Linked DNA regions of Homo sapiens. The protein of the gene in region 4 purifies or fractionates together with the protein of the main gene of each other region. This does not show direct contact. Each region holds a gene or a part of one and is shown on either strand. Other genes may lie near its edges.

Region 1 (3,740 bases), on a different chromosome or scaffold from region 4:
ATGGCTCTTCTGGAGATGGAGACTAGAGCCCAGGGACAATATCCCATCTTTCCTTCCTTCCTCCCAGGAGGTACAGGACATTGATTACCATGAAAGCCATTATGAAATGACAGAAGACACTAACACTGAGGAAATAAGGCAAGGCTGTGGAAACAAAAGATGACCAACATTAATACTTGGCCAGATACCTGCTTCTACTTATTCGTTCGAAGAGAGGGGAGAAGTGAGAGAGACAGGGACCTCCAACCCTTTTTCTGTCCCTACCTCCCCACCCCCACTCTTTGGGCCTTTATAGAATTTCAGGGACCCCCCCAGATGATTTTATGAGGAAACAGGGCTATAAAAAGAAAGGACCTTAGTCCAGCCCACACACTGACCAAACGATGCTCAGGCTAGTGACAAGACTTCCTATTTATTCCACTGCACTCTGTCTCTATTCCTAAGGGTCTGTGAGCTGCACCCTGAGCACAATTTCCTTACAGTACCCAGGGGGAAGTTGTAGGACAAGCAGGTTAACATTACGGCTGTCATTTTCTCCCTTCCAGCTATATAGACATGAAGCCAAAATTGAATAAGACCAAGACACTCAAGTGAAAACCTTGCTATCTCCACCCCTACTATATCCCCTCACCAATGCCAAACTAAGAAGGGGGAGAAGAAGAAAGAAATACCTCTCCTAGAGATATATTATCTAAACCACCACCTAGAATCATAAAATGTAATTGCTAGAAGGGACCTTATGGGTCATCTAGTCATTATTCAGATGAATAAACCTAGACACGTGCCACCCGAGAAAAAGACTGGAGCACACAGTGGGGTCTCCTGACTCCTATCCCTAATAGAAACCCTTCCGGGTCCCTCTCCATCCTGTCCTACCCTGCCCTGCCCCATCCACCCTCTCCCCAGGCCACCGCTGTATCCAAGCTACTGAGACTTCTGCCCTTCTGGATCATGAGCTCCTTAGGATACGTTTTACTTATCTTTGTTTTCCCAGTGCCTAGCAGAGAGTAAGCAGAGAAGTGGCTTCGGCTTAGAGAGGGACTTAGGAATACACTAGTACACGAAAAGACCAGTGCCAAAGGATGTAGCCTGGATAAAATGTAAACTTTTCTTGGCTTAACGTAAGCAGTTTCCAGGCTGTGCCACACCCGGATGTCTAGGATTGAATATCTCCTCTCTTCCTAAACTAATGTTTGCATCATCCAGTTTAGCCAGGAACATGACCAGTTGTGCCATACTCTCACTCTCTCCCTTTCAGACCTGACACAAAGAACTAGAATCCATAACCAGAGGTAAGTGAAAGCATATGTAAGGAGACCCTGCATAAGAAACCCTACCCCCTCCCTTACGTGCTCCTTCTTCTCCTGTGTCCTCACCTCAATAAACAGCACCCATTTACAAAACTGCACCAGGTAGAAACCAGATGTCATCCCGATTCCTTCCTTACCCTCCACACCAATAATCTTTGTCTCATCACTCAATTCCACCTTTTTTCTTTCCTTTTTTTTTTTTTTTTTTGAGATGGAGTCTCACACCCAGGCTGGAGTGCAGTGGTTCGATCTCAGCTCACTGCAACCTCCACCTCCCAGGTTCAAGTGATTCTCCTGCCTTAGCCTCCCACATAGCTGGGATTACAGGTGCCTGCCACCACACCCGACTAATTTTTTTTTTATTTTTAGTAGAGACGGGGTTTCACCACGTTGGCCAGGCTAGTCTCAAACTCCTGACCTCAGGTGATCCACCCACCTCAGCCTCCCAAAGTGCTAGGACTACAAACGTGAGCCACCACGCCCAGCAATTCCATCTTTTTTCTGCACACACTCTTGCACACGCTCTCCCACAACCTTCATTTGAAACACCATCACCTCTTGCCAACCTCCTAACTGGTCTCTCTGCCCACAGTGTTCTAGCTCTCCAGTCCGCTCCTGAACAGGCAGCCAGAGATATCCTTCCAAAATGCACATTGAATCATGGCCCCCTCACCTCCGGATGAAGTCCAAACTCCTCAACACAGGCAAGAAGGCCCTTTCCTGACTTGGCCTCTGCTCTGCCTACCTTGAAAGTCTCCTGTCTGGCCATATCCACCCACCTCAAGCATTATGCTCCACCCAAGAATCCTGAGAAATTTGTTTAGCTCTCTTGGCCCGTTTCCTTCAACTACAGAATGGGAATAGTAACAGTACGTACTTTCGGGATGGTCTTAACCTATTATCACCATTTCTGAACTTACTGTTCCTTCTACCTAGAACAGTCTTATCTCTGCCTCTTCCCTGACTCCCCAGATCTCTTCTTTTCCTGGCTTATGTCTGTTCTCTTGAGGGCTAGGCTTAACCAACTTCTCCTCCTAAAAAGCCTTCCCTGACCTTCCAATGCTGGGTTAGGCATCATTTTTCTGTGCTCTCCTGGTGTCTGTCCCTGTGACAACACTTCTCACACTGCCTGTTTCCTTGCCTATCTTTCCCACTACGCTATACAAACCCAAATCCCTAAGCGTAGCACCAGGTCTAACAGAGGCTCATTAATTCTTCAGTGAATGAAAAACTTTCCAAAAATGAGGTATCCAAAGAAAGACAATCTCAACAAGTAACCAACTCAAATGTCAGCCAGGTGGCTGGTCTAAATGACTGTAAGGTCCCTCAACTACAAGATTCTATTCAATAAATTCAACACACTGACCTCATGGGTCATATTTGTTTGAACTTTAATATGCAGGCAATGTTGGGGCCATCAGATTTTTAAGGAGAGTGTGACATGACCAGACACATGATCATGTGTTTGTTACCCTATTAACCATCTCTGAGACACTGCCTCTCCCAACCCCCAGTTGTTATCAGGACAATATTCCAACCATCTTCATAAACATGAAGAGCCCACTCCCCTAAATGGACCAACACAGAAAACGGTCAAAGGGCATTTTGAAAGGCTATATGCAGCATCTAACTCCATCTTAACCAACTGCAAGCAGTGAGTATCCATAAACATCCTCCAAGAACCCAAAAGCTAATCCCTCCTGTGTGCCTCTATGGAAAAAGGGGGAAGAAAGAGGGAACATTTCATAAAGGTGATCTACTTAATCATTCTGAGTAGTTTTGATCCAAGCTGCTGTCACTGCACTGTTATTCCTGATAACTGCAGCCCAATATCCCCAAACCCTGGACTGTCAGAAGGGCAGGTGCAAACAAGGTGAGGGTGGGGAGTTATCTCGGTTCTATTTTAAGGGTGTAATAGCCTGGCGTGGTGGCTCATGCCTGTAATCCCAGCACTTTGGAAGGCCAAGACAGGAGGATCACCTGAGGTTCAGGAGTTCGAAGCCAGCCTGGCCAACGTGGTGAAACCCTATCTGTACTAAAAATACAAAAATTACCCAGGCGTGATGGTGCATGCCTGTAGTCCCAGCTACTCGGGAGGCTGAGGCAAGAGATCCCTTGAACCCAGGAGGTTGAGGTTGCAGGGAGCCAAGATCGTGCCACCGCAATCCAGCCTGGGCGACGGAGTGAGACTCCGTCTCCAAAAAAAACAGGGTATAAGGTCTCTTCTGCAGATACTGGGGGGCCAGCAGAGATTCAAAACAGGCTTCAGTGATACAGAACATCAACCTAAGGGGGAGAAAAGTAGGTCTTACTCAGAGAGGCCTGGGTTCCTGCCCTGGAGCTGCATGCCACATCTCTGCTGCAGGTGAGGACTAATAATTTTGCATTTACAATGCACTCTGAGACTAAAGAAGACACTAAGTGTGCCAG
Region 2 (2,442 bases), on a different chromosome or scaffold from region 4:
CAAGTTAGAAGATTAATACCATACAGTCACTAGAAGGTTAATTATGAACAAGTAGAAACAGAATATTTTTAATAAATGAAATAGACAAATGGAATTGTACTATGATTGCAATAATTAAAACTTTCACATATTGCTTGTATAGGAATAAAGACAAAGTCATATAAAAAAATGGGGAAAATTAAACACTACTCACCCATAGTCCTGAGTATTTTAAAGAGCCTTCGTAGAGCATTCAAAATCGGGTAAGAAAAATGGGGAAAAATAAAATTACTTAATCTTTAAAAGGAAGACAAGCGTATGCTCACCTAATTGGACTTATATAATCAGGCTTGCTCTAGCTTATCCAGAATCAGAGTACAGGCCGGGCGCAGTGGCTCATGCCTGTAATCCCAGCACTTTGGGAGGCCGAGGTGGGTGGATCACCTGAGGTCAGGAGTTTGAGACCAGCCTGGGCAACATGGTGAAACCCTGTCTCTACTAAAAAAAAATAGAAACATTAGCTGGGCTTGGTGGCGGGCGCCTGTAATCCCAGCTACTCGGGAGGCTGAGGCAGGAGAATCGCTTGAACCCAGGAGGTGGAGGTTGCAGTGAGCTGAGATTGTGCCACTGCACTCCAGCCTGGGCAACAAGAGTGAAATTCTGTCTCAAAAAATAAATACATAAATAAATAAGAATCAGAGAGTACAGTCAAGATATTCTTAAGTCATGCAGTTGTCGCTAACATGAATTTTTTCTGTTGTCATTTTGCTTCTTGGAAGGATTTTCAAAATGGCTGCAGCTCCTCAAGCACCGGGGCGGGGATCTCTCCGTAAGACGAGACCTCTGGTTGTGAAGACGTCGTTGAACAACCCATACATCATCCGCTGGAGCGCTCTGGAGAGCGAGGATATGCACTTCATCCTACAGACGCTTGAGGACAGGCTTAAAGCTATTGGACTTCAGAAGATTGAAGATAAGAAGAAAAAGAACAAAACACCTTTTCTGAAAAAAGAAAGCAGAGAGAAATGCAGCATTGCTGTTGATATTAGTGAGAATCTGAAGGAGAAGAAAACAGATGCTAAGCAGCAAGTGTCAGGGTGGACGCCTGCACACGTCAGGAAGCAGCTTGCCATTGGCGTTAACGAAGTTACCAGAGCCCTGGAAAGGAGGGAACTGCTGTTAGTTCTGGTGTGTAAATCAGTCAAGCCTGCCATGATCACCTCACACTTGATTCAGTTAAGCCTAAGCAGAAGTGTCCCTGCCTGTCAGGTCCCCCGGCTCAGTGAGAGAATCGCCCCCGTCATTGGCTTAAAATGTGTTCTAGCCTTGGCGTTCAAAAAGAACACCACTGACTTTGTGGACGAAGTAAGAGCCATCATCCCCAGAGTCCCCAGTTTAAGTGTACCATGGCTTCAAGACAGAATTGAAGATTCTGGGGAAAATTTAGAGACTGAACCTCTGGAAAGCCAAGACAGAGAGCTTTTGGACACTTCATTTGAAGATCTGTCAAAACCTAAGAGAAAGCTTGCTGACGGTCGGCAGGCTTCTGTAACATTACAACCCCTTAAAATAAAGAAACTGATTCCAAACCCTAATAAGATAAGGAAACCACCCAAAAGTAAAAAAGCTACTCCAAAGTAATCTTGCATAAACTTGTCATGTCATACAGTTTGTGAAAGGACACCTTGTAAAGAAGCCTTGAAACTAATAAAATGAGTTATACTTACATAGATTCATAGGGTCCTGTTTGGTAATATTCAAATGTGTAAGACTCTTTGTAACTATGGCACAGATATACTAAGTGCAGGAAATATTCAAAATTAGGAATAGCCAAACAGACATTTATTGAAACTAGTGTTCATGCGTGTGTAAATTGACTTTTTCTTTTTCTTTTTTTTTTTTTTGAGACAGTTTCACTCTTGTTGTCCAGGCTGGAGTGCAATGGTGCGGTCTCAGCTCACTGCAACCTCCTCCTCACGGGTTCAAGCAATTCTCCTGCCTCAGCTTCCCAAGTATCTGGGACTACAGGTGCGCACCACCATGCCTAGCTAAGTTTTGTATTTTTAGTAGACACGGGGTTTTACCATGTTGGCCAGGATGGTTTCCGTCTCTTGACCTCGTGATTTGCCCACGTCAGCCTCCCAAAGTGCTAGGATTACAGCTGCGAGCCACCGTGCCTGGCCTTTTTTTTTTTTTTTTTGAGACAGAGTTTCGTTCTGTCGCCAAGGCAGGAGTGCAGCGGCGCAATCTCGGCTCACTGCACCCTCCACCACCCAGATTCAACGATTCTCCTGTCTCAGCCGCCTGAGTAGCTGGGATTGCAGGTGCCCACCACCACACCCAGCTCATTTTTTTGTATTTTTAGTAGAGATGGGGTTTCACCATGTTGGTCAGGCTGGTCTCGAACTGACCTCGTGATCCACCTGCCTTGTCCTCCCAAAGTGCTGAGATGACAGACGTGAG
Region 3 (3,516 bases), on a different chromosome or scaffold from region 4:
TATGAGTCAACTGTAAATAAGAGCAAAAATAAATGCATAATCTTTATGTTGACTAAGACTTTCACATGTACTAACTGTAAAATCTAACAGCTAACTCAAGCTTATGTATCTGGTAGTAGCCACAATTTAGTGTCTTGCTTCCAGATTTCATGTTAGGATGATTTTGGCATAATGTATTTCCCATAAGATCTAGGAAAAAAAAAAAAAAGATCTCTACCAACTCCCAAAAAAGCCAAGACCAGACTGCCCCAAGCAGTCAAATGGAACAGCAAGGAAAACCACAGCAATTTCCTTAACCAACATAGTACCAAAAAAGTAAAACTGAATTCAATAACCAAGAAATAATTTACCAACTATAGGAAATCTGGGAAAAATATACTAAAGTTATCATCTCAGACTGCCAACTGTATTCTTCATGCATTTCATTAAATACATGAGTTTTCAGGTATTTCATTAAATGAAATATTATCTGTGGTTAGGAACTTTTTAAAAAGAGCCAACACTTAAAAAGGGTAAAGGCAGAATCATAATAAATCACAAAAAAACTTGGATTTAATCATGTCCCCAGAAAATCCAGTTACCTCTTGGTCAGTCATCCGGAAGCAATTCTTCACATAATTGATGAATTTGGCTTCCACTTTGGGAAGAGAACCACCCTATTAAGACAAAAGCATTATTACAGGTAAGTAGAGAAATACACCGAGAGAGATACCTTTAGAAAATTCCTCAATAATCTGCATGCTACTACATGGATCAGTTTATTCTTTTTCCCTTCAACTTTCCAAGAATACTCCGTATCTTTTTCAGGGCCAGAAAGCCCTATTGGGCAGCATGGCTAGTATCTCTATTCAAACAGATTTGCCAAAGGGTCAAATCTTCCCTGACAACCTCTCTAGGAACATAAAATATAAGCTACACTTGAGATTCGACAAACAAACATGGCAACTCGGTTGCTTATCTAAATTATCTAACAAGTCGGTTATCACCCAGAACCAAATACAACCCATAACATCCCTTTGGAGAACCATGTCAAGTGACCCAAACTGTTCTTTAAAAACAAACAAACAAAACCCCACAAAACACTTGCTGACCACAAACTGGTTCAGAACAACAATGATCTGGTCATCAGTTAAAGATATATAAAGTTGAATGGGGAAAAAATTACAGTAATTACATTTCACTAATCACTCTTACCATTTCCTTCAAATTATGGATACAGGCAAGAAACTACAATAGGGGAAAAAATTACAGTAATTACACTTCTCTAATCACTCTCACCATTTCCTTCAAATTACGGATATAGGCAAGAAACTACAACAGTATTGGCAAGACCTGTGACTTTGTAACCAAAATTTCAAAACATTACTATTGCAAATATCTTGAAATGTTTGTATTTATCACTACTTTGGAATTTAAAGCATTGAATATATTTGTTTTTACTAAATTTAATTAATACCTTTCCCTCTAAGTATCTTTTATGCATTTTTAAAAGATTGAAAAGGTTTTCAAATGTCCAAGGGACTTTGGCAGAATCAGGTATAGCATTAAGAAACTTAACTGCCTCCAATAACCTAGTAAAATAAACCTCACAATTTCCATTTCAAAATTATTGTCACATACATTCTTAATTGATGCATTCAAATATTTATTGAGCAGCTAAGGAGATACAAAGGCGATTTAAAACATTGTCAGGTGAGGCAAATGCACAAGTAATAGAAAGCAAAGGGCAAGGTTCACTGAATCACAGCAGTCAGAAGAAAGTGCTTTAGGGAACCAAGAGATTGTTTCCAGCCTGAAGAGGCATGGGTGGCAAATCAGAAAAGGGGATTGAGATTAAAATAGAAGACTTCAGTCTGGATTGTTGATGACACTCAGTATGGACTATATTTGTCTCTCCTTTTCCTTTCTCCCCATCTTTGGGCTTAATTTACATGTAGTGCCCAGGACTGTTCAATGCGCCTGCAATTAAACCAAGGAGATAGGACCATATTAAAATGGAGGGGAGGGGCATCTAAAAGATGTCATTTTAGCATTGTATCCAAGGGACAAAAATCAGTGATAACCAGGAAGGCTAAAGGGTTTACAGTGTGACTAAAAGAAATATGTTCCAGTTCTAAAATTCTTTTTCCAGTGGACTTATCACTGTACAAGGAATCTACTGAAGCCACGAAAAATCTATAGATTACAAGAAAAACATGGGGAAATGAGTTGGCAATTTTTCACCACCCCACATTTGCTCTCAATAGTTGGAGTCTAAAAGTATTATTCATAGAATTAAAGCTTCTCTCAAATGTGCTTCCAAGGCATTTAAACCATTTATTCCATATCCTACTCAAATCCCCCAGTCAAGCAGATGAGAGACCTAACCCTCTTCCCACATTTCCATTATTTAAGACAAAAGGAAACTAGATTTAAGCCTATTAGTCATTCACGAAATCTAGCTATTACTACATGTATTAACTGGTGACAACTTGGTGTAAAGGGCAAAGAGAAATGTCTCAATCTGCTGAAAATCACTTCTGACTAGGGTCAATCATGAATATTAACTATAATACCAAGCAACAGCCAGCATCTACTTTTCCAGCTGTTTGTAATTTTAATGAAGTCTCATACGCCCTCTGTTGGTTCTCTAGCATATCTTACAACCAGAATAGGCAAAGGGTTTTCACTGATCTATTTTAACATGGAAGGTCAGAATGTTATCTTGCAACCAGTGCACTACGTTCCTTGCATAATGGAAAATAAGGCATATTTAATTTTGCATATGCAAAAATCACCACAGACACGATTATAAATGTTTTATAAGAAATTTTTGAAAAAATTCATACCACGAACCAGGCAAGTATATTAAACCAAAACAAACAAAAAAACAAGAAACATTCAAGTCTATGCAAACCAGACACGTGCAATTTGAGGGGGGAGACAAAGTTTTTTTAAGATAACTTTACTCACTTTTTCTATACTTGCTTGCATTTTTGCTTTAATGTCTTCTACAGAACTAGGTCCTTTTGGTGTTTTAGGAGTTTTTTCCTGTTTCTTGAAGGATTCTTGTCCCTGAAAAAGAAATGAATTTCCAAAAGGTCATAAGAATAAATACAATTCCTAATTAAAACCCATTCTATCTGGATTTCCTCAAATATTCTCACAAAACTCCCTTATAAAGCTAATTATACAACTGGAATTATCATCAATAAATTCACGCCATATAATTTTGTTCTTAAAATCTTTCCTTTAAGGAAGGAATAAGATGATTAGCTAGGCATGGTGGTGCATGCCTGTAATCCCAGCTACTCAGGAGGCTAAGGCAGGAGGATTGCTTAAGCCCAGCAGCTGGAGGCTGTAGTGAGCTATGATCATACCACTGTACTTCAACCTGGGCAAGAGTAGGCCACCCATCTCTTTAAATAAAAAAAAAAAGAGTAACTTGGGAGTTTGCTTTTATGCACAGTACTAAGTCAGTTCAAAAAAGGAAATCAGGGCAGACAGAGTCTCGTTCACTCAGTGCTCAATGGTGCC
Region 4 (3,768 bases):
TTCTTTCCTGATTCTCAGGCCTTCATATTTGGACTGAGCCAGGCTACCAGCATCCCTGGGTCTCCCACTTGCAGACAGCCTGTCGTGGGACTCCTCAGCCTCCATAACTGCATGATCAATTTCCCTAATAAATCTCCTCTCATCCATCCATCCATCCATCCATCCATCCTATTGGTCCTTTCTCTCTGGAGAACCCTGACTAATACATTTTGGCTACTACCATTCCTCTGAGGAATTAAGTCCTGTGTCTCTGACCCAGGGCTTATGTGTCTTCTGCCAGCATCCCTGAGACTGTAGCAGGCTACCTAGTTAGCCTGCAAGTATGAGGAAATCTCAGAACTTTCACAGTCCTGACAAATCCTTAAAATAGTTAGGAGCTTTAGGAATAGGGAGCTATCCAGAATCCAACGTCTGGATGATCTGCATAGAAGACTTCACGCAACTGAAACTTCAATAAGCCTTTCTGCCCTCTTTTCTATCTACCATATATGGAAGGAGAGGCACCGAAGGCCAGACCTAGGACTCATGGGAGCAACTTGGAGCACCCAGTGACGAGACACTTCCCATGAGGAGCAGACAGATGGGGCTATTTCTAAAACAGACCACCATGCTTCCTATCCTCCAAAAGAGAGTACTACACCATAATTCCTGATGACTTGATCCATTATTATCTGGGTCAAAGATACACTTCTAAAAGGAGCAACATACATGGCCGTTTTAGGCAGATTACGCTGTGTGGTGAATAGCAAACTTTGAACTAAATTTAGTGTCCTAATCAATTAAAAGTTAGAATAAATTCATCTGACATTTAATGGTAGGCCTGAGTCAGTACCCTGTGATAATAAATAAGCAGATTGTGTATATAATTGGTGCTACTTAAAAATATTATAGTCAAGGCTGTTCAAGGTAAGCTGGAGAGAGGAAAGGGGAGAAATAGATAAAATTTAGCTGCTCTGAAGCCACTCTCAAGATCTCTGGATCTACATATAACCCAAAGAGACGCAGGCAGAAAGGCCTGCGTGCCTACATGATCCTGAACTATGGTTTTCAGAGATGTCAGAAGGGCTAGTTTCCTTAATAATATTTTTATATATACGTATAGAATATTCCTTGACTAAAGAGTGAATCACCATTCAATCCTCCATTACTCCTCTTTAATTAACAATTACTTTCAAAATCACTGTATCATTACATAATTTATTCCTCATACCTGTTTTATGCCAAGCCAAAAGAAAATCAAATTTCAATGGCTTCTTTTCTTTGAAAGACCAAGATATTCTTTCATACTTCTTAGAATCCAAGTTTAAGGATAATTCCATCAAATCAATGGAAACAACTTTAAAAATGAAAAAAAGAACATATATTTCATTCATATACGTACAGCTTCTACCATGGAAAAAGTGTTACATTTTTAAAAACTAGAATTTTGGGAAATTTTATGGATAGTAAAATTATTTTATTCTTCTTCCACTCCCTTTGGTTTGCCAAATAAATAAGATCCCTTTGGTGGGCACTTCTAACCTTGAGAGCTAATAAAAACAGACATTTTCAATTTATATGTTTCCTAGGTCAAAGACCAAGGGCAGAGGACCTTGAGAGGTCAGGTTTAATCTACTTATGGATGTGGCGGCCTTAGCTATTGATGTTCGAGCCAGACGCTGTCAGCAAAACATCTCTTCACTCATGGGTGAATTTCTACTAGTAATCATAAAGACTTGGGGAAACCAAAGGAAATTCTTTATTAAGAATAAGTTGTAGACTCCTATCTTGGGTTCAGTACTTGGAATTTTTTTTTTTTTTTTTTTTTTTTTTGAGATGGACTCTCACTCTGTCGCCAGGCTGAAGTGCAGTGGTGCGATCTTGGCTCACTGCAAACTCCCCCTCCCGGGTTCAAGCAATTCTCCTGCCTCAGCCTCCTGAGTAGCTGGGACTACAGGCATGCGCCACCACGCCCAGCTAATTTTTGCATTTTTAGCAGAGATGGGGTTTCGCCATGTTGGTCACAATGGTCTCAATCTCTTGACCTCATGATCCGCCCGCCTTGGCCTGCCAAGGTTTAACCCGAAACATATATATTTAATTGACCAGTCCAAGTCTACAATCTTTATTAAATGCATCTACAGCTGAAAAGAAATGAACTTAAAAGCATCATCCTATCCTCTGTGAAGCTCGAGTCAGAAGTTTGACAGATTTTTTTTAAAAGGCCACATTTTTTTGAACAAAGAGATTAGAGGCAATTCAAACATTTAAATTTAAATTGCCACAAGAAGATTAGAAACAGATGGAACACACATGATACTTACTAAATTTCATAATTTTTCTGCCAGAAAACTGAGATGGATGACCCTGAAGTCCAGTTTCTTCATAAGTGTCTTTATCCAGTGACAAAATTAATTTCCCTATAAATCAAATAATAACTCCCATAAGATACCAAAACTAGAACTTACGTTGTCTGACTAAAAGAAAGCAAGGCAAATTGAGCAGTTAGATATCAATGTAACAAACTGCATACAAGGATCTTATTTATATCACAAGAATATTATTTATGTGTATACATGTCTTGTAACAGATATTATTTATACATTATACATCCAAGGATATTATTTATAATAGTGAAATTTAAAATAATCTGAATTTCTACTAAAGATGAAATAAATAAGTCATGGTATACTCATTCTTTTGAATATCTTCTTTTTTTTTTTCAGACAATCTCATTCTGTCTCCCAGGCTGGAGCGCAGTGGCGCAATCTTGGCTCACTGCAACCTCCGCCTCCCAGGTTCAAAGCGATTCTCCTGCCTCAGCCTCCCAAGGAGCTGGGACTACAGGCATGAGCCACCACGCCGGCTAATTTTTGTATTTTTAGTAGAGGCAGGGTTTCACCATGTTGGCCAGGCTGGTCTCGAACTCCTGACCTCAGGTGATACACCTGCTTTGGCCTCCCAAAGTGCAGGGATTACAGGCGTGAGCCACCGTGCCCAGCTGACTTTTTTTTTTTTTTTTTTACAGTATGCATTTTTTTTTAACAATTAAAGAAAGATGAAAAAATAAAGTGTTACCATTTGGTAGCAGGGCAACAGTATTATCTTCATCAATATGTGTATTGTATGTTAGTGCATAGCAAGAACCTGGAAGAGAAAGTACAGAGGAAAAATTTAAAACAAGAAATTACACCTGCAAGATGTTAGTGGATTATTTTTACAAGATAACCAGTCTTCCGGGTCATTAAAGGTCAGTTTCTACCCCTGCTCCAGCTCACTCAATAAACCAAACATCTGCTAAGGGTAAGCTGCAGCATGCAGAAGACCAAGCATGCAGAAGACCAAGCATGCAGAAGACCAAGCATGCAGAAGACCAAGCATGCAGAAGACAAAGCTTGCAGAAGACCAAGCATGCAGAAGACCAAGCATGCAGAAGACCAAGCATGCAGAAGAACAAGCATGCAGAAGACCAAGCATGCAGAAGACCAAGCATGCAGAAGACCAAGCTTGCAGAAGACCAAGCTCCAGCTAGTTCACTCCCTGACCAACAGCCTATTTGTGCAAGTTTACTATCATCAAGCAAAAAACTGACTCAGAACGGAACGTGACCTTTGGGGATGCGCGGAGAGGGGTCCAAAGTAGAATTCTAGATAAACATACACCTCTCAGAGACAGAGTTCCAGGTTAAGATTCAAAAGCTACCCAACCTCTCCAAGCCTCAGTTTCCTCACTGTTAAATGAGGATCATAGGCTTGCTTCATAAAGTTGTTGCAAGGGTTAAATTTGGTA

The links.
Region 1: the proteins of RPP40 (region 4) and RALY fractionate together in Homo sapiens (co-fractionation; one large-scale study listed by BioGRID). This does not show direct contact.
Region 2: the proteins of RPP40 (region 4) and RPP38 fractionate together in Homo sapiens (co-fractionation; one large-scale study listed by BioGRID). This does not show direct contact.
Region 3: the proteins of RPP40 (region 4) and NPM1 purify together in Homo sapiens (affinity purification with mass spectrometry; 4 studies listed by BioGRID and IntAct, with this or other methods). This does not show direct contact.

What each region holds. Positions count from the first base shown.
Region 1 is NC_000020.11:33,996,902-34,000,641, reverse strand, and holds part of RALY (RNA-binding protein Raly), read right to left. Parts: intron 1-3,740. UniProt on the Homo sapiens protein: RNA-binding protein that acts as a transcriptional cofactor for cholesterol biosynthetic genes in the liver. Binds the lipid-responsive non-coding RNA LeXis and is required for LeXis-mediated effect on cholesterogenesis.
Region 2 is NC_000010.11:15,102,547-15,104,988, forward strand, and holds the end of RPP38 (ribonuclease P protein subunit p38), read left to right. Parts: intron 1-758; 5' UTR 759-768; coding exon 769-1,620; 3' UTR 1,621-1,711; downstream 1,712-2,442. UniProt on the Homo sapiens protein: Component of ribonuclease P, a ribonucleoprotein complex that generates mature tRNA molecules by cleaving their 5'-ends. Also a component of the MRP ribonuclease complex, which cleaves pre-rRNA sequences.
Region 3 is NC_000005.10:171,404,840-171,408,355, reverse strand, and holds part of NPM1 (nucleophosmin), read right to left. Parts: intron 3,055-3,516; coding exon 2,953-3,054; intron 1,960-2,952; coding exon of another isoform or gene 1,951-1,959; exon of another isoform or gene 1,231-1,950; intron 657-1,230; coding exon 582-656; intron 1-581. UniProt on the Homo sapiens protein: Involved in diverse cellular processes such as ribosome biogenesis, centrosome duplication, protein chaperoning, histone assembly, cell proliferation, and regulation of tumor suppressors p53/TP53 and ARF.
Region 4 is NC_000006.12:4,997,506-5,001,273, forward strand, and holds part of RPP40 (ribonuclease P protein subunit p40), read right to left. Parts: intron 3,127-3,768; coding exon 3,058-3,126; intron 2,400-3,057; coding exon 2,304-2,399; intron 1,337-2,303; coding exon 1,211-1,336; intron 1-1,210. UniProt on the Homo sapiens protein: Component of ribonuclease P, a ribonucleoprotein complex that generates mature tRNA molecules by cleaving their 5'-ends. Also a component of the MRP ribonuclease complex, which cleaves pre-rRNA sequences.